Regions from separate parts of the Homo sapiens genome. Here region 1 is linked to region 2. The links come from fine-mapping of genetic effects on gene expression. A gene starts in region 2. The other region holds a variant in brackets. All regions are shown on one strand. Distances are from middle to middle. Region 1 holds the start of LOC107984872 (a long non-coding RNA gene). Region 2 holds the start of GABRD (gamma-aminobutyric acid type A receptor subunit delta).

The links.
Region 1: its variant is fine-mapped to the expression of GABRD in whole blood (TOPMed, PIP above 0.99). The same link has a PIP of 0.9 or more in blood mononuclear cells.

Annotation. Positions count from the first base shown.
Region 1 is chr1:1,955,978-1,965,904 of GRCh38, reverse strand. It overlaps CFAP74 (cilia and flagella associated protein 74), which reads left to right. Exons shown (of 39, transcript NM_001304360.2): 13 at 844-1,017; 14 at 2,038-2,156; 15 at 5,875-5,941; 16 at 6,696-6,785; 17 at 9,121-9,285. It overlaps LOC107984872 (a long non-coding RNA gene), which reads right to left and starts at 8,537. Exons shown (of 3, transcript XR_007065354.1): 1 at 7,752-8,537; 2 at 7,404-7,541; 3 at 6,875-7,003. RefSeq lists enhancers at 5,324-6,029, 6,975-7,614, 7,615-8,255. The variant A/G (reference allele first, on the strand shown) is at 5,019.
Region 2 is chr1:2,013,155-2,022,738 of GRCh38, reverse strand. It overlaps GABRD (gamma-aminobutyric acid type A receptor subunit delta), which reads right to left and starts at 3,394. Exons shown (of 9, transcript NM_000815.5): 1 at 3,248-3,394. The coding sequence starts at 3,315. It overlaps LOC105378589 (a long non-coding RNA gene), which reads left to right and starts at 4,651. Exons shown (of 2, transcript XR_001737844.3): 1 at 4,651-7,558; 2 at 7,739-9,541. RefSeq lists enhancers at 3,222-3,799, 3,800-4,378.

The sequences.
Region 1 (9,927 bases), 57 kb after region 2:
TGCAGCAGTGTGGCTCAGGCTGTGGCCCTGTCCCACGTGGGAGGGCAATGCCCGCCGCCCGGTTTCTGTAAGCATTGGCCACCTCTACTGTCAGGGCAAAAGCCACCTGGTTCTGCTGGTTCTGGGGATGCCGGGCTGACCAGGGTGGTGAACAAGACAGGCCAGGCAGAGCCACCACCTGCCCACTGGGGACACCCAAGGGAGAAGGCTGCCTCTGGACAAGAGGAGGGTGCCAAGTGCCCCCCCCACCCCGGGAAGCCAGGGAGGAGGCTGCCCGGCTGCCGGGCATGGGCACCAGCAGGGACAGCCCACAGCCCAGAGCCAGGACCCACGCAGAGTCCAAGCAGCTTCTGAAGGGACAGTTCAGGACTCCAGTTCTGATCTTCCTGGTTGCTGGTGTTGGCCAGGGAAGCGGCTTTTCATCTGAGAAAGCCCAGTGTGTGCTGACACTGCCCGCTCGAGAAAACTGCTTCCTGCAGAACCTTTCAAAACCTTCCTCTTGTCCTGATTTAACAATCTGGAAAGTTCCCCCTCCACATCATTTCCCAGAAATCCACCTGAATCTGGAGCTGTCTGCTCTTGTTTCCTGGTTTCCTCTTTTTTGGAAGTGAGGGGTCCCTGCCTTGTCAATGGAGCAGAAAGTCAGTCGGTCCCCAGGGCCTTTCTGAGCAACTCAGAGCAACTCCCCGGGCCATGGGGCTCTTCCCAGCTCCAGCGCTGGTGGCAGCCGGTGGGGCTGGGCTGTCCGTGCTCTGCTAACCGCTACCCTCGCCTCCGAGCTGCCACCGGCGCCGCCCAGGTGGAGCCGCTAACAGCCCCAGCCTCTGTCTCTGTGACCCCCAGGTGCCCAAGGAGGACGTGGACCGAAAGCCCGTGGGCGGGACAAAGATGGACAAGGACATCCTGGAGCGCACGGTGGAGCGGCTGCGGAGCAGGGTGGTCCACAAGCAGGTGGTGTGGGGGCGTGAGTTCCAAGGACGCCCCTTCAACAGCAAACCGGAGCTCCTCCACTTCCAGGTGAGCCCGCAGCTGGGCCAGGAACGGGACGGGCAGCAGCACAGGACAGCAGGGGAGCCCTGCCGCAGCCCAACCCCTGACACCTTTTGCTTTTTTTTGAGATGGAGTCTCACTCTGTCGCCCAGGCTGGAGTGCAACGGCATAATCTCAGGTCACTGCAACCTCCGCCTCCTGGGTTCAAGCGATTCTCCTGCCTCAGCCTCCCGAGTAGCAGGGATTACAGGCGCCTGCCACCACGCCTGGCTAATTTTTGTATTTTTAGTAGAGACGGGGTTTCACCATGTAGGCCAGGCTGGTCTCGAACTCCTGACCTCAGGCGATCTGCCCGCCTCAGCCTCCCAAAGTGCTGGGATTGCAGGCATGAGCCACTGCGCCTGGCCTGCCTTTCGCTTTTTAACGCTGGAAAACCCGGGGGCTTCCTCAGGAGGCACAGGCCCAAGTGTGGACCTTCTCTTCCAGGAGGTGGAGGGAGAGGGCCCCATCCCCATGGAGGGCTGGACGCCAGTCTGAGCAATGGGGGTGCCGTGGCCCCGAAAGCCCTGTGCCACTTGGGGCAGTGGGGGTCCCCTGAACCTCGGGACAGGGATGTAGCAGGGACAGGGTGGGAACATGTGAGGCTGAGGTTGGTGCCTGGACGCCTCTGCCAAACTCTGCAAGACAGAGCAGGCTGTGGGCTCCTGTATTTGACCCCAGCTCAAGTCCATCCATGGAGTCAGGGACCCACCTTGGAACCCACAGTGTCTGAGCCTTTTCTCTTACTCCCACCTGCGGGCCCCAGCAAGGCCCTGTCCTGCCTCAAGTGGCGAAGGCTCTTATGTGACAGGTTCCACCCCCAGACCTGTCCTTCATGCACCCCAGGGGCCTTCTCGATTCTGGGAGAAACCTTGGAAATTGTTCCCTGGGAACCTCTCCCTAGTTGGCAAATGCTCACCAGCGGTTACCTTGAGGCAAAGCTGCCTCGGTGCTCACAGCACAGCCCCCTGTGACCCGCTCTGAAGCTGCTACCTCGGCCTTTCCCAGGACTTTGATATTGGCAAAGTGTACAAGAAAAAGATCACGTTGGTAAACACCACCTACACGATCAACTACTGCAAGCTGGTGGGCGTGGAGGAGCACCTCCGGGACTTCATCCACGTTGAGTAAGAGGACGGCTCAGACAGGGAGGGACGCGGTGCAGGGACAGCAGGAGGTTCATAGGTCCCTTCATGTTCAGAACGGCTGGAACAGGCTCTATATGGGCATAAGCCCTCAGGTCCGATTTTCACGAAGATTTTGTAGAGGGGGCTCCTCTGTCTTCTTGTGTCAAAGTCGTCCGAGACCGAGCCCATTTCCCTTCACGAATGGCTGGAACTTTGCCTGGCTGCCCAAGTTTCCTTTTGTTTTTCTTCGTTTTGTTTTGCTGCCTTTTTTTTTTTTTTTTTTTTTTTTTTTGAGATGGAGTCTTGCTCTGTCGCCCAGGCTGGAGTGCAAGTGCGATGGCGCGGTCTCAGCTCACTGCAACCTCTACCTCCTGGATTCAAGAGATTCTCCTGCCTCAGCCTCCCCAGTAGCTGGGATTACAGGCACCTGCCACTACGCCTGGCTAATTTTTATATTTTTAGTAGAGACCGGGTTTTACCATGTTGCCCAGGCTGGTCTCGAACTCCTGACCTCAGGCGGTCCACCTGCCTTGGCTTCCCAAAGTACTGGTATTACAGGCATGAGCCACCACACCTTGTCAGAGTTTCCTTTTGTATTGTTATGTTTTGATGTTGACCATTCTGATAAGTTTTCCCTGGCAATTAGCCAGTGTTTTCAGTGTCAAGGTGAAAGCTGTCTTCATTTCAGCACTGCCTCCCTGAATTAAGGCCGTGCTTTCACTCTGTAACAATGTTTCCATTTGCTTCCTTGCAGACTCCACTTACCTGTGTTTTGGATCCTCCTTGCTGGTCTTTGGTGTCTGATGTTTTCCTTCTGGTTGCCTTTAATGCTTTCTGCTTTCCTTTTCTTTGTTTTGTTTTTGACAGGGTCTTGCTCTGTCACCCAGACTGGAGTGCAGTGGCACGATCTCAGTTCACTGCAGCCTCAATTTCCCAGGCTCCAGCAATCCTCCTGCCTCAATCAGCCTCCTGAGTAACTGGGACCACAGCTGTGTGCCACCAAGCCCGGCTAATTTTTCTATTTTTTGTAGAGACAGGGTTTCACTGTGTTTCCCAGGCTGGTCTCAAACTCCTGAGCTCAAGTGATCCACCTGCCTCAGCCTCCCCAAGTGCTGGGATTACAGGTGTGAGCCCCTGTGCCTGGCCCATTTTCTTCTTTTCTCTTTTATTTTATTTTTCTTCATTTTTCCCTCTGACGGCCTTTTCCATGTTTTCTGCAATGTTTCTCTTTTCTTCTGCTCCTTAGTAACTTACTTTTTTTTTTTTTTTTTTGAGATGGAGTTTCACTCTTGTTGCCCAGGCTGGAGTATAGTGGCACAATCTCGGCTCCCTGCAACCTCTGCCTCCTGGGTTCAAGCGATTCTTCTGCCTCAGCCTCCTGAGTAGCTCGGATAACAGGCGCCTGCCACCACGTCCGGTTAATTTTTTGTATTTTAGTAGAGACGGGGTTTCACCATGTTGGCCAGGCTGGTCATGAACTCCTGACCTCAGGTGATCCGAGGCCCACCTCGGCCTCCCAAAATGCTAGGATTACAGGCGTGAGCCACAGCACCCAGCCTAACTTACTTTATTTTTAAGAAAGTTCTTTCTCTTCTACTTCCTGCTTCCTGCCAGTTTTCTCTTTGTGGACAGGTTTGTAGGTCCAGGATGGCTTTCGGATTCCCAGTTCAGGAGTTTCCACTCCCGCGAGCGTTGTGAAGTGCAGCTTCTCAAAAGAGGGTCAGCAAGGGCAGGATCCTCATTCCCCCCTTGCTGCCCAGGCTCCAGAGGGGCCTCCTCTTCTCCCACGAGGCATCTTCCTGAGGCTGCCCCCAGGGGCGCGTGGGCTCTGATGGCCCCTCCCTGAGATCAGCACTGACTCACTGGGACTTGGTATTTTCTTGTGGAGGCTGTGATGTTCTCTTTGGGGAGCTGATTTTAGGTCAGTCTTAGGGTCTTTGTTCCCGTCTCCTTCCTCTCTTCCCTGCAGTTTTTCAGACCTTCGTAGCTCTCTGTGAAGGCGGGCATGGAGAATGCATGCTGGAGGTTGGTGTTTACTTTTCACCTTATGGTTAATTTTAAGTCTGGAGGGTTCTGTGTCCTCTAGTCATGCTGAAGGCATGGGATTTCTGCAGCCCGCCTGTTTCTCTCATTGATCCATGTGGTTTCTGGAGGGCGCGTGCAGAGGTGGGTTTAGGTGGTCGCTGTGCTCTCAGCCACCGAGGCATTCCTCCCCACGCTGGGATGAGAACTTCTCATGGACGGTTATTTTCTCTCAACAGGTTGAGGCCACCACTCTCCTGCCCTCTGCCTCTTGTTGCTGGAGTGGGAGGTGGCCTCGGTCCAGGTGCTGGTTTTTTTGGAGGATACCTGGCTTTCCGCCTGCTTGCTCTGAGATTCTCTCATCCTTAATGTCCCGCAGCTCTGCTGTGCGTCTGGTGTGGGCTGATTTTTCTTAGACCTCACTGTGCTGTTGAATCTGAAGATTCAGATCTTTGAACAATTTTGGGAACTTCTCAGCCCCAGCTCCCCAGGCATCGCCCCTCCCCCATTCATTCTCCGGCTCTGCCCTCCTGCTCCTCCTTTTGAAACCTCCCCGTCGGGTTGGAAATTTCTTGTCTCTTTTTCGCATTGGGTGGTGCTCTAGGTGCTGCTCGGTTCACCACTTGTCCCCTTAGTGCTGCTAATCAACGGTTGAAATTGCTCAGTAAGTTTCTTACTCAGCTGCCCTGTCTCTCATTTCTAAAAATGCCAAGTTCTGTTTTGGATGAGTCTGCATTTCTTGACAGTGTCTTGTTCTTTTCTCACGTCTGGAATTCTCTATTTCTGTCTCTAACCATTTTATCTATACGTCCTCTAACATCCCCACTCCACGCTTCTGTC[A/G]TCTGAAGGGTTTGGAGCTCGGCCCTGCACTCTGCTGCTGGTTTATGTGAGGCACGCACGTCCACCCTCTCGGATTCTGCTCCTCTCCCCGGCAGCTCCATCCCGGGCTCTGTGCAGTCGGCACCAAAGCATTTCCCTCCCAATTGGAGGAGCTTTGGGTTTGCTTCTGCTGGTGCCGTGGGAATGTTGCCAGCCAGGGACACATTTTACATTAAAATTTTAGCTTGTGCATTTCTAAACCAAGCACATTAGGTAAAATCCAACCTTGTGAAATCAGCCTGGCGTCAGGAATTCCTTGGGGAGATGCTCCCTCACCCTGATCTGGGCCAAGACAGACCAGCTCCCTCAAGTGGCCTGTGCAGTAGGGGCTATTTTTGTGGTTCTTTCCCTGAAAGGGGCTGAGAGGGTCCCGAGGGTCCCAGCTGTCTCAGGACTCCCAGTTCCAGCTCTCTTCCTGGCTCCTGCCCACAGCCCCCTGGTCCCATATTGGTATCAAAGCCCTAGAGCCCCGGTCCCAGGCCTGGCACCTGTGCCCAGGGGAACTGTGGCCCTCTCCGACCCATGGGGTCCCATTTCCTGGCAGTTGGCCTGGGGACTTGCCTCACGCCTTCAGTGATTAACTCCCTCACTCCACAAACGTTCGCACACACTGGAGCGCCCCCTGCCTGCCAGGTACTGGCGGCAGCAGGGAATGCAGCAGATCCAGCACTCCCCGGGGTGAAGGCGGCTGGGCAGGGGGCCAGGCCCGGGATGGGGAGGAGGCCAGGAGGCCCAGCCTGACTGTGCTCTGGGTGGTGAGGCGAGCGTCTGCCCTCCGCAGCACTAACCCCCGTGTGCTATGGGTCACGTCCTGCAGCTTTGACCCCCCTGGCCCCCTGTCAGCCGGAATGTCCTGTGAAGTGCTTGTCACCTTCAAGCCGATGGTGAGTCAGAGGGGCCCGTTCTCTCTCGAAGGGGAGGTGGTGGTGGGTGGAGCCTGTGATCGGGCATGGTGGCGCAGAACATGATGGGGGAAGGATGCACTTGGCCTCTCAGTGAGGATCACGCAGGCCCCTGTTTTGCTATTTTACTTCCAAAAATACACTCAACATATTCCTGAATGCTGGGCAGAACCGCGGCGCAGCTCCTCTGGGTTAGTGGCCGAGGGCGTGCACTCTCGGGTCTAAGTCGGGAGGGCTGGGATGTTCCAGGAAGCTAGTGTCCAGCCCTCCTGAGATGCCCTCTACTGACTCTTTCCCCTGGGGTCACCCGAGCTGGGCAGGTGGCAGGCGGCCCTGGCCCAGGTAGCCACGGCACATGTAACAGGCTAAAGTTACAGGAGGGAGGGGTGTGGTGGCTTATGCCTGTAATCCCAGCACTTTGGGAGGCCAAGGCAGGAGGGTCGCTTGAGCCCAGAAGTTCAAGACCAGCCTGGGCAACATGGCGAGACCCCGTCTCTACAAAAAATACAATTAGCCAGATATGGTGGCGCATGCCTGTAATCCCAGCTAGTGGAGAGGCTGAGGTGGGAGGATCGCTTGGACCCCAGGTGGGGGTGGGTGGAGGGGGGTTGCAGTGAATCGAGCAGGTGCCACTGCACCCCAGCCTGGCCAACAGAGCCAGACCCTGTCCAAAAAAAAAACAAAACACACAAAAGTTGCAGAAGTGTATTGTGGTGGGGGTTGTTTTATGTTTTAGATAAACAAGGATCTAGAAGGAAATATCTCATTTTTGGCTCAGACGGGCGAGTTTTCAGTTCCACTGAAATGTTCAACAAAGAAATGTTCGGTGAGTTCAAAGGTGTCCGAGCCAGCATTTCTCGGGGCATGCTGGCTGGGAACCCCAGTGGGGGACGGCATCTCCTGGGAGGGGGTGCAGGTTGGCGGGGGGACCAGGTGGAAGCTCCAATCTTCACCAGGGGCTGAGCCCCTTCTTCCAACAGCAGCTCAGGTGGGCCTGAGCCGAACCTTAGGTGGGGTCTCGAACGTGGGGCACTCGGACCAGTGCTGGAAAAATGAGACAAACCCTGCTCTGTGTGGAGCCCAGACTGCAGGGCCTGTGGCTCAGGAAAACTTAACATTCATCTGCAGCTCTTGGGGGGATCCCGCCTGATTCTTTTTAACTAAGAAAAATTTCAAGCATAGAGGAAAACAGAACAGCAGAACAAGGCTCCACGCGCTGCAACCCGGACCCCGCATCCTCCCAGACTCCACATTGTCGGCCTCGGACACCTTTGCTTGGTCCATCAACTGCTATATCTGTTGTTGCTGATCCATTTCAAAGTACATTAGTAAAATGTCAACACTCCACCCTCAGAAACTTCAGCATGCATCTCCAGTAAACCAGGAACCCACACATCATTGTCCCCCCGGCCCCCGCCGAGTAATTGGTCAGCTCGCACCGCACCTGCCACACAGCAAACGGCTCCTGGCTCAGCCGCGAGTGTGAAGCCCTCTGCGGCCAGCCCCGTCCAGGCTGGACTCCAGAGTGGCAGCTACGGCAGCACGAGCATCTCCCAGAGGACAGTGGGGACGTCATTATCTCCTAAGAATTCTCAGGTCAAGGCAAGTCTCACAGCCTGAGCCTGCGTCAGCGGGGCAGGAAGAGGCCCATTCTTACACTAGAGGAGGAACAAGCCGGGGCAGGCGAAGGGCAGAGGCGCGCTATGTCCCCCACCCCAGGAAGATCAGCAGACGCCCTCATGGTCACCCGTGATCCAGGCCACGCTGGCCCCAAGCCACCTTTGATGAGCACCTGTGTAACTTTCTCTGTCGCGTGCTTCCTCCTTCACCGCGTGTCGCCGTGGAGAGGGGTTGGGATGAGAGTCACCGATGGTGGCAGAGAGAGAAGTGTTTTCCTCTCAGTTTCTTCATAGGCTCACCAGTGTTTGAGTATTTGGTGTGTTCCAGTCACTTTAGTCTCCCTTCCTCTTGGCACTCAAGTGGCCCCGCTTGGGTTCATGCAGGGACCACTGCCGTCCTAGGGCACCCGAGCAGCTCCTTGCCCTGTGGCTGCCGCCTTCTCCTCAGAGCGGTCACGGTTGGGCCGGCACTCGGCTGTGCGGGCTCTTGGTGAGCCAAGACTCAGGCCCAGGACACCGAGCACCAGGGCCAGGGGCAGCAGGAAGTCCCCCGCCCCCCCGCAGACAGCCAGGCTCCGGCTCCCTCCTGCTCAGCCTGGGAGCCCGGCAGGAGTCTGGTACTGGCCTGCTCCACTCCGGATCAGCATCATGGAGCACGTGCCCGGCGAGGCCCCAGGTGTCCTGGCCAGAGCTGCCCCGGCCTCTCCCGCATTTGGTCTTTGCAGTGTCAAGTGCTCCTCTGTGACAGGAGCACCGAGACCCTCGGCTCCCCTGAGCAGGGGCTTGCTTCTCCCAGGGGAGCGTCCAGGCTGGGGACTGTAAAAACAGTAAAACCCCATCTGAACAAGGGGAGAACAGGACCCAGGCGGTGCAGGCGGGAAGGAGGCGGCCTCCCTTGGCTGGACCCCGACCGCCCTCTGCGAACCACGTCCATTTGCGTCGGTGGCCCCTGGTCCTGCCCCTGGAGCAGGAGCACAGAGTGGGGAGCCCCTGGGCCTCCAAACTCAGAGCCCAGAAAAGCCTCCCGAGGAGGGGCCATTGGGCAGAGCCGAGGTATGGCCCGGGCCTGCATCCTTAGCCAGCACCAGAGCTTCTGTGGCCTGTGGCCCACAGCGGGCATGGTGAGGCACCCCCATGGAGGGCGTGCTCCCGTTCTGGAAGGATGCTCCCTGGGTCCCTGTATCCAGAGTCCAGCTGACCTCACCCAGGAATGACACCATCCATCCTCAGGACCTCCAAAGCCCCGTGTCCAGGCTCCTTGTTTAGGCCCTGCATCCGGGCCCTGCGTCCTCTCACTGAACCCTTGTTACTCCGTGGCGAGGGGGCTCCTGCCTTGATGTTCTTAAAACCAGACTCGCGTGCCACACCTTGTCATGAGCAATACACACCTGATTTCTGGGTTGAATCGTGTACCTGCTTGTGCAGTGCACAACGCGCACAAATGCTCAGGGCAGCCCTGCCTGGAGCCACGTGCAGGCCTCACGCTGGGCACCCTGTGGGCCTGGCACGGTGGCCCTGAGTTCACTCCATGTCCTCTGGCAGCTGTCCCTCGACAAGGAGCTCATTGACTTCGGCAGCTACGTGGTAGGAGAGACCACGTCTCGGACCATCACGCTGACCAACGTTGGGGGCTTGGGCACGACTTTCAAGTTCCTGCCAGCTTCAGAGCCCTGTGAGATGGACGACTCCCAGTCTGCCCTGAAATTAGTGAGTGTGCCACTCAGCCATGGGGGAGTGTGGGGACCTGCCCCCCAAATCCAGTCCCATGTGGGTGAACAGAGGTGACAACATGAGGGTATCAACAGTGGGCCTGGGAGAAGGAGGGCAGTGTGGGGGCCTCCTCAAATCAGCCTAAGCAGAAGAGACCAGCTTCTTCTGTAGGACACCTGCAGTCACCTGGCCTCAGGGGCAGCAGCAGCAGGACACTCCCTTTCTCAGGCACGTAGCAGCAGGGGTGCTGGCCAGCAGCTCCAGGCCCGAGGGCCCCAGGAGACCCAGCCTCCCCCGACGCATCTCTGAAGCCCCAGGTGTGGGGGTGGGAGGACTGGACAGGTGCACTCCATGGCCACAGCTGCACCTGTTCCAAGTGTGAGCGCGTCTTGTCCTGTCACGGGTATGGGTGTCCCAAGGCTCAGGTGGAGAGAAGCCTCAGCCTCTAGCCAGCCAAGGAGGAAGGAGGGTTGGACCAAGAGGAAGATGTGGCTCACACTCCCAGGCTGGGGCAGCACAGCCATGCCCACCCGGCCTGGAGTGAGGGAGGCTGAGGGGTGACTCTGAGTCTCTGGGTGAGCTGCTGCTGTGATCCCACAACCAGGATGGGTGAGACGAGAGCAGGCAGCCGAGGAGGCA
Region 2 (9,584 bases):
AAGGAGGAGCAGGCACTTTGGTAACAAAGTATAAGATGGAATCAAATTAAGTCCCGGCCAATTAAAAATGCAAATGGCAGTTGCCTTGAAGGTCGGACGCAAAGGGCTCTAGTGAGGCTTTATTTTTGGACCAGCCCAGCTGCCATCTAGCCTGCCTGGAATGAGGCCACAGGAGACACCGTCCTTCCTGGGCCACATCTCTTGCCCATCTCAGGGTGGTGGCACATGTGGGGGGGCACGAAGGCAAGGCCAGGAGCAGCCCCCGCCACGAAGCTCACCTGGAGGCACCTTTGCCATCTCCTGGGGGCGAGAAGGAAGCAGGCTCCCACCCCCACGCCATTTCTCACCTAGGAGAGCCCCCGGTCGTTTTCCCACCGTGAACAGATGGGAAGGGCCAGAGTGCGGGGGCGTGCGCTTCATGCCAGACTCTGGGGTCTGGAGGGCCCCTCACTTCCTCAGGTCAGGATGTACAAGGGAGGCAGATCTAGCGGGGGCTGGGGGAACACAGCCTGCACCAGCGGAGATAGGCACAGGGTGGGGCTGTCCTGACTCTGGTATGTCACGGAGACCTCGGGAGAGGGCTGCTGCCTCACCTGGTGGCCCTGGGGCCCAGTGGTGGCCTGAGCTTGGGGTTTCCTGTGGGTGGATGGACAGAGAGGCTCAGGGCTACACACCAGGCTCCAAGTCTACACTCAGATTTAGGACTCCAAACTCAGGGGGCAGAGTGGGCACCATGAAGACATGGCAGCTTCCCCCTCGGGTGGCTCTCCATGGGTCACCTGGCCTCCTGCCCTCCTGGCCCCACTGAAAAACAAACCCATCCCTGTCACTTGTCTGCGCCCTGGGGACAGACAGGGAAGGTAGATGTAGCTGGGATCCTCCCCCTGCAGGCTTCTCCACGGCGCACACCCAGCCCACATATCCCACAGCCCTGCTTTTAGAGCAGCTCAAGCCTCCCAGCATTGCAGTTACCAAGGCGAAGAGGAGCACCGCCACCAGCGCACCGCGAGCTGGCACGGTAGGAGCCGCAGCACAGCTTCTCCAGGGAGACGGAGGTGCCGGCAGCCCGGGAGGGCCACCCACGCGGGCATGCAGTCGGCAAGCTCGGTGCCTGCCGCGTGCACGGGTCTTCACACTCCGGGCCGACCCACGGCCGCCACGCAGCACACTCCCTTCCTATCCCACCCAGCCTTTCCCATGAGGAGCTGCTGCAATGGGGACCTGGGGTAATGGCCAGAATGGGTCCCACTGACGTCCAATACAGCTCCAGGACAAGGACCCCGAGACTGAGGGAAGGGAGGGCGGCTGTCCTGGTTTCTGGAGTGTAGGGGCACAGATACAGAGAGGCCCTTCATGGACAGCACCCCGCTAAGTCTGAAGGTGGCCCCTAGGGCTGAGTTGGCAGGTGCTTCCACCCTGGGGAGACCCTCCAGGCCTGCCCCTAGACGCCAAGAGCAGGAGGTTGAGCCCAGCACATGTGTGTGGACAGGATGACCTCAAAGGAGAGGCTGCAGCATGCAGCCAGGTGGTAACTGTTTTTAACTAGAGAGCGAAAGGGGAGCTGAGCAAAGCAGTGCACCTCTCACCAGGCAAGGTGTCCTCCCCAACGGCACCCCTCTTCCAGGGATGGGAGTGACTGCAGGCCCAGAGGCCCCCCACTCCTGGCTGGGCCGTGGCCTTCCAGCTTTCCTGCCCAAGGAAACAGGCACAGAATCCCTTCCCCGTCAGCCCAGGAGCCAGATGCAGGCCAGGATTAAGGATCTTCAGATTTTAGAGCAGGGAAATGGTGGACACAGAGGCTGTGGCTGGGGGCGGCCTGAAGAATTTCCCAGCAGGAAGTGTATATAAATAATCCCAGAAGTAGGATTAATAAAGATGAGAAGAGTCTCACGTCCATGCGGGACGGGACTTGCTGCCAACTGAATTCTGGTGTCGAACTTGGGCTAAAACTTTGGGGTTTCAGAGCCGTCTGGATTTCAGCCTCTTGGCTAAGTGGCCGTGGGCCTGGGCTGGCAGCTGTCCCCATGGCTCCAGCACAGCATCCACAACTGTGCCCCGAGCTTCGTCCTTCCTCTCACCTTGAAGGAGGGGAAGGACAAAGGGAGAAAGGCCCACTGGGATTGATGGAAGAACAAAGCTCTTCCCAGGACACGGGCTGCTTAGAGCCAGGGGCAGTGCCGACCCCGCGGTCTCCTGATGGGCACACGGCTGCAGCTGGACCCAGGCCTTCTGGGCTCTGTCCCCCGCACCTCCAATGGGAAAACTCTGACACACCGCCCCGTGTTGGGTGCTGCCATCTCTACTACGGTCAGCCACCTCTATATCTACATCTTCACGGTCTCTGAGATCCTGAATGCTGGGGGATGGCTCTTTGCTGTTTCTTCTGCAGTCTTTGCACTGAGGTGATTTTCAAAGACGCCCCTAAATGTCCTCTCGTGACTCCTAGGGAAGGCGGCCAGCCAGGCCCCGTGGTGGGGCCAAGTTGCCTGGGTGGCTGAGGAGCCCATTTCAGATCCCCAGAGAGGAGATGGGGGGGCACTGTAGGCCAGAGGGGGCTCCAGCCCCGGGGGGCCTCCTTCTCAGCCTCTTCCTTCTCTGGGGAGTCCCTCCCAAAATAGTTAAGAAATCCACCATCTCTTTTCTGTGGCCAGGGGCACCTGGCCGCCGTCCACCTGCACACACTCAGGAGTTCTGCCCACGCCATTTGAAACGGACTCTGAAAGGAGACCCCGGAGGCCGGGCCCACCCTCCACAGCGAGACAGCCTCCTCCGTCCGTCCCAGACCCTCCGGCTGGGGAAGCTCACTGGGGGAACGGGGAACGGCTCCCCCGCAAAGGGAGCAGCCTCCCCGCACCGAGTTCTCAGGTCTTTCCTCTCCTCAAGGCACCCGCCGGGCAGGGACCCGCGAGTGCCGCGGACCCGGGGACCCTCCACGCGCGCCGCGGAGCAGGGGAACCGGGAGGCTCCGACGCCCTCGCCCAGCCCAGGTTCAGCACCAGGACGGCGGACAGCACCGGGCGGGGGCGGCCAGCGCGGGGGTCGCCGCGTCCCGAGCCCAAGGGCAGCGTCCGGGCGAGTCCAACGAGGGGCCCGCGGGGCAAGACCCCGGGGAGGGAGGACGCGGGGCTCTCAGACTTGGGGTCCGGGGCCCGGGGCTCGCGCCGGCCGCTCTCCCAGCCGCTATCTCGGGCCGACGCGGGCCCCCCACCGCCCCCGACCCCGCGCCGCGCGGACCCCGCCCGCTCACCTGGTGCCGCGGAGCTGCTGCGCGCAGAGGAGCAGGAGCGGGGCCAGCAGCCGGGCGGGCGCGTCCATGGCCGCGGCGGGCTCGGGACGGGGTCCGCGCAAACTTGGCTCCCGGCGGCCGCACAGGCGGCACAGGCGGGCGGGAGCTGAGCGAGCGCGGCGCGGGCGCGAGGGGGCGGACGGAGCGCGGAGCCCGCCCCGAGCCCGCCCCAGCCCGCCGCTCCCTGCAGCCCGGCCCCGCCCGCCGCTCCCCTCTCCTCCCCCCGCCCCCCGCCCCATCCCGCCCCCCTCCGCCAGCCGCGCCCCCTCCCTCGCGGGCAGCTCTCCCTGGCCGGGGTCTGGCTCTCCGGGACCGCTGCCCTCACGCGCCGCAGACGGGACCCTCCGGGTGTCTTCATGGGAGGCGACACCGGCACAAGCCCCGCGTGGACACTGTGGCCCACGGGCGCGGCAGAACCTCGTCCCGAGGCGGTTTGTGGGGGGTCGCACGTCTGCGTGGCTGCTTCTGGCTGCGCCGGCGGTGGGTGGGGAGGGGGCCAGTCCCTGCAGCTGTCAGGAGAGAGACCCCCACCAGCGGCTGCTTCCAAAACCCTCCTGCCTTCGCGGGAGCTGGGGCCAGGCGACTTTGGGAGCAAGTCCTGATCCCTGGGGACCCTCGACGGGGGCGGGGAGAGGAAAAGCAGGTGGGGGCTGCGCCGCAGGCCGCAGTTCTGACTCTCCACACCTCTCATGGCCCCAGGCCCGCCCTCCACACCCCTAGGATCTGGGAAAGGGAAGGCCTCACACTCTCCTGCCTTGGATCTTTTGAACATAAAGTTGCGCTGCCATTTCCTGAAGCTGCTCACAAACTTTAATCATTGTTGTGTCAGTTATTCACTTCTGGGCTCGCGATGTCGCTGACAGCACAGTGTCAACCCCTCGTGAAAACACTTAAAAATGGCGAAGCTGTCCCCGAGGCTGCGTGCTTCTGGATGAAGGGCCCTGGCCGCACAGGGGCAGGTGGAGGAAAGTGCAGAGAGGGATTTGCTTCGGAATTTCCAGCCCAATCCCTACTGTGGGAAGTGGAAGAATGAGGCTGGTTCCAGTTTGCTTGCTTTATTTATGTTATGTTATGTTATGTTATGTTATGTTATGTTATGTTATGTTATGTTATGTTATTTTTCGAGATGGAATCTGGCTCTGTTACCCAGGCTGGAGCACAATCTCGGCTCACTGCAACTTCTGCCTCCCAGGTTCAAGCAAGTCTCCTGCCACAGCTTCCCGAGTAGGTGGGATTACAGGCACCTGCCACCACGCTCGGTTATTTTTTTGTATCTTTAGTACAGACGGAATTTCACCATGTTGGCCAGGCTGGTCTCGAACTCCTGACCCCGTGATCCGCCCGCCTCGGCCTCCCAAAGTGCTGGGATTACAGGCGTGAGCCACTGCACCCAGCCCTAGCCTGCTTTCTTAAATCAAGGAACGGGGCTCTAACAAGCCCAACAGGTCTCAACTCCAAGGCCCCCTTCCCGGCTGCTCACTGGCCCCTGCCGAGAGGGGTCCTTTGGGTACAGAAGCACTGACCTCCCTGTGTTCCCGGGGTTCCTGTCCGAGCCTGTGCTCTGCACACGTGCCCCTTCCCACGTGTCCCTTCCATGGATTAATTTAGGAGTTAATTCATGAAGAGGTGCCCAGAGCTTGGCCCGGCCCCCGGTGAGAGGCATTATTTTTATTCTTCCCCCTCCAGAACAGGGGTCTTGTCCGTCTTCTCCTTGGTGGTGTATTGGATGAAGTAGGTGCTCAGCAAATGTAGGAGGAGGTGCAGACTCCACATCTGCAAAGTCCATGCACCCACTGCGGCCAGCACGCCATCACTGCCTCCGGACAGTGCCCCGCCCTCCCTGTCTTTCCTTCCTGAGCTTTGGAACTAAGCAGTGAGAGTGGTTCATGGTCGCAATCCCTTCAATATCTGCGAAGAGCTTATCTGAGGATATCTTGGTGCTGATCACCTCTGAGAAGCAGCGTTGATCTTGACTCACTGGATCCGATTCATTCAGGATAAGCCACACCCTATTGCCATTTTCTTCACGCTCCTCTATTATCTGGGGCATAAAATTAACATTCAATTTTCTTCTTTTTCTTTTAAGAGACAAGGTCTTGCTCTGTGGCCCAGGCTGGAGTGCAGTGGCACGATCTCAGCTCACTGTAGCCTCCACCTCCCGGGTTCAAGGGATCCTTGCACCTCAGCTTCTGGAGGAGCTGGGACCACAGAGGCATGTCACTGCACCCAGATAATTTTCTATTTTTTGTAGAGATGGGGTCTCACTATGTTTCCCAGGCTGGTCTCAAACTCCTGGCCTCAAGGGATCCTCCCCCGTGGCCTCCCAAAGTGCTGAGATTGCAGGCATGAGCCTCCGTGCCCAGCCAATGTTGAACTTTTGCTGGAAAGTCGTGCTGTTGTGTGTATGTCAGTTGAAGCTGGGCGGGCATCTTAGCCAAATATCTGGTGGTTTGGTGGCATCAAATTGTCTCCTCTTCCTTCAGTCCTAGAGGCAAATGCATGTCCCATCCATCATTCACAGGTTTCTGCAAGGTTTGAAGTCTGCACACTTCATTTCCATTCTTTATTGTTCCTAACTGGTCTTTCTTTCTTTCTTTCTTTTTCTTTCTTTCTTTCTTTTTTGTTTTTGAGATGGAGTTTCGCTCTTGTTGCCTAGGCCGGAGGGCAGTGGCACTATCTCAGCTCATTGCAACCTCCACCTCCTGGGTTCAAGCAATTCTCCTGCCTCAGCCTCCCAAGTGGCTGGGATTACAGGCGCCTGCGACCATGCCCAGCTAATTTTTGTATTTTTAGTAGAGACAGGGTTTCACCATGTTGGCCAGGCTGGTCTCGAACTCCTGACCTCAAGTGATCGGCCCACATCGGCCTCCCAAAGTGCTGGGATTACAGGCGTGAGCCACCACACCCGGCCTCCTAACTGATGTTTCAGTTTGGATCTGAAGAACGGGAATTTTCATAATTTCTTTTTCAAGGTTTTTGAGAATTAGTTTGTTGCCATTTCCGAACTTCCATCCCATTGTGATGTGCATAACCAGTCGGCTTCCTTAGCCTCATCCTCCACCCAGGGAAGCTCCGACCACGCCAGCACCAGGAAGGCCAGCCGGGGAGCAGCCTGGCCCAGGGGTCAGGAGCCGGGGCCTGTGTGACTGGGGCCTGTGTGGCTGGCACCTGGTGGATGTGAGCCCCAGGACAGGGAGTTTCTGTGCCCATGAGATGGAAGCAGCTCACTTCTTGGCCCCTTTCAAGAATCTGGGAAGAGCTCCAGGAGTCAGAGGTCTGGGTGCCAGTCCCAGCTCTGCTCCAAACTGGCCGTGTGACCTCAGCGAAGTTATTTCCCAGTTTTGTTTTCTTCTTTTACAAAATGACAGGGTGAGAGTCGTGATTGGTTTTCTTAGTGTCAGAAGTGCTGAACTCTGTTAGAAAGCGTCTCAGGTTGTTTTGTTTGACAGTGACTACCCACTTTGCAGAGACCTGGGCTGCCCGCTCTCTGGGGAATACTGGAGGTTATGCCCCATCTCCTGTCCTGTGGGAGAACCCACCCTCCGAACGAGGCTCTGGTGAGGTTTTCACAATCAGTAACAAGGCCGATCTCCATCAATGGAAGTCTCCCCGTTTGAGATGGGGTGTGTGCTCCTTACCCAGGCTCCTGAACAAAACCCACCTCCTTGTCTTGGCACCACTGAGAGTGCACACCGAGGGGGCTCCAGCACCAGATTGTGGGAACAGTCACGAGAAAGCAGCTCAGACTTCACACCCAGAGCCCTTGATCCCTACACACCCAGTATTCCTTCACAGCGCTCTTCCTGCTTCCTGGACACGTGGAACTGCTTCTCCATCGGGGAGGATCCATCCAGAGCCCTTTGGGTGGGTGCTCAGGGCAATAGCTGCTGCCTCTTCCTTCTGCTCAGTGCTGGGAGGCGTTACACTTTCCCCATATGGCACGGAGCAGAACGTGCACCTTTGGCTCTGGAAGGAATGAACATCCTACCCGTTAGTTAGCCCTGGGAGTCACTGACTCGGTTCTTCCCTGGACACCAATGTCCTATGGAGCACACAGAAAGCCACGGAAGTGTGGTCTGCGGGTTGAGGTGGGTATTCAGATGCCAGCCTGCAGCCCACTTACATTGTTTCTTTTGGACTGACACCTTGCCGGATGCTCAGATGCCCACAGCGCAGGGGAAGGGACGGCCTAGAGTCCGAGGCGTGGGCAGGGAGCTGGCCCCCGTCCATTGCTGCAGCTCCGCAGCAGCAGGACAGCCCTGGGAGGTGGAGGTGAGTCACCGGGACCTGGGAGAGGAAACGGCGCTCGCTAAATTTAAACCTCCTTCCTGATGTATTTGTGAGGTTGTTCTGTTACTTTCCTGGGGAAATGCACCAAACAGAGAAAATGGCAGGGACACAGAGAAGAACGTTATCGAGTTAGGTGGTAATTATTAATCCTGTGATTTTCAGACGGACTCCGTTCATGTGGATAAGCAGAGGAAATTTGGCAGAAACGACCAAATGCAAAATACGTGTAGCAGCCTGAGACCGGCCGTCTACTGAAACAAAGGATGCAGTTCAGTCGGAAACCACGCTTAGCTGAGTAGCTGTCTTTAGCCATCCAGGCCCTGAGAACCAATGAACAACCCAGCTTGGCCGCTTAGAACATTTTTTCTATACTTGAGTTAAATAGATATCCAAGAACCATTACTCGTTTTTAATGTGGAGAAGTCGGTATTCTATTCTCGTGTTCTATGTTTTTTAAAGTGGCAATTTGAATTATTTCGTGCGATAGAAAACCTTAAACACAAAGTAACGTTTCTAACAAAAGGGCTGTCGATCAAGTGACAAACACGTCCTACTTTTAGATACAAGCACGACTGAGGCAACGGCACGAAGACGCCTAAAGTGGGCTGCTGGGGAGACAAGATCTGGCCGCGAATGGAACTCGCGGCAGCTCATTAACGGGACCGTCCAGCAGGAAGGTGGGTTGGCAGCCTTCTCCCAGGGCTCCCCACGATCCCTACCCCTGGTGTGGCGTGGCCTTCCTCCTCACATGTCGTCTGGACCAAGCAGTGTGTTGTTCTCATCCATAAAGAGTGATGGGCCGGGCACGATGGCCACACCTGTGATCCCAGCACTGTGGGAGGCTGAGGCGGGAGGATCTCCTGAGCCCAGGAGTTTGACACCAGCCTGGGTAGCATAGGGAGACCCTGTCTCTACAGAAAAAAAGTTAGCCAGGTATTCCAGAGGCTGAGGTGGGAGGATCGCTTGAACCCAGGAGGTGGAGACTGCAGTGAGCCGTGATCGCACCACTGCACTCCAACCTGGGCAACAGACTGAGACCCAGTTTCTAAAACAAATAATAAAAAGGCAGGGTGCAGTGGCTCATACCTGTAATCCCAGCACGTTGGGAGGCCAAGGTGGGCGGATCACTTGAGGTCAGGAGTTCGAGACCAGCTGGCCCACATGGTAAAACCCCATCTCTACTAAAATGCAAAAATCAACCGGGCACAGTGGCACACGCCTGTAATCCCAGCTCTTCAGGAGGCCGAGGCAGGAGAACTGGGAGGCAGAGATTGCAGTGAGCTGAGATCGTGCCACTGCACTCCAGGCTGGGTGACAGAGCTAGACACCATCTTGAAAAAAAATAAAAGTTAAATAAAAAGAGTGATGAGGCATCCTGAGATTCATTTATAAAATGCCGTGATTCAGGTCTCAGGGCACTGTCGCCCCTACTCACTTTGATGAAGCCAGTGCTGGGTTGCTGCTGAGGTGGGGAGGTTCATGGGCCAGGAACTGAAGGCAGCCATGAGAGCCAGACCCCTCCACCACCCCCAAGACAGCAGGGAACTCACTCCAACAGCCACCCTGGGATGCTGCCACAGCTGAGCCTGGAGGTGACCGTGACCCTGGCTGACGTCGGACTGCAGCTTTGTAAGGGAGACTGAGCCGGGACCCAGACCTACAAAAGCTGAGATGATAAACACTGTTTTAAGCTGCTGTGTGTCGCAGTGACTCGTGTGGTAGTGGATTTCTAGCAGAGCCGTCGTTCGTGTCTGCCTTCTCTCAGCTCAACACTCTGTAGGGCCACCCATGCCGTTGTGCATGTCAACGGTGGATTTTTTATTGCGAGTAATATTTCATTCCATTGCATGCTCACACCTCGGTTTGTTTAACTGTCTACCTGTTGATGAGCTCTGGGACATATGCAGTTCTGGGCTATTATGAGTAAAGCTGCTTTTAACATTTAAATACAAGTCTGTGTATGGACACATGTTTTCGTTTCTTTTGAATAAATATGTGTGGGATTACT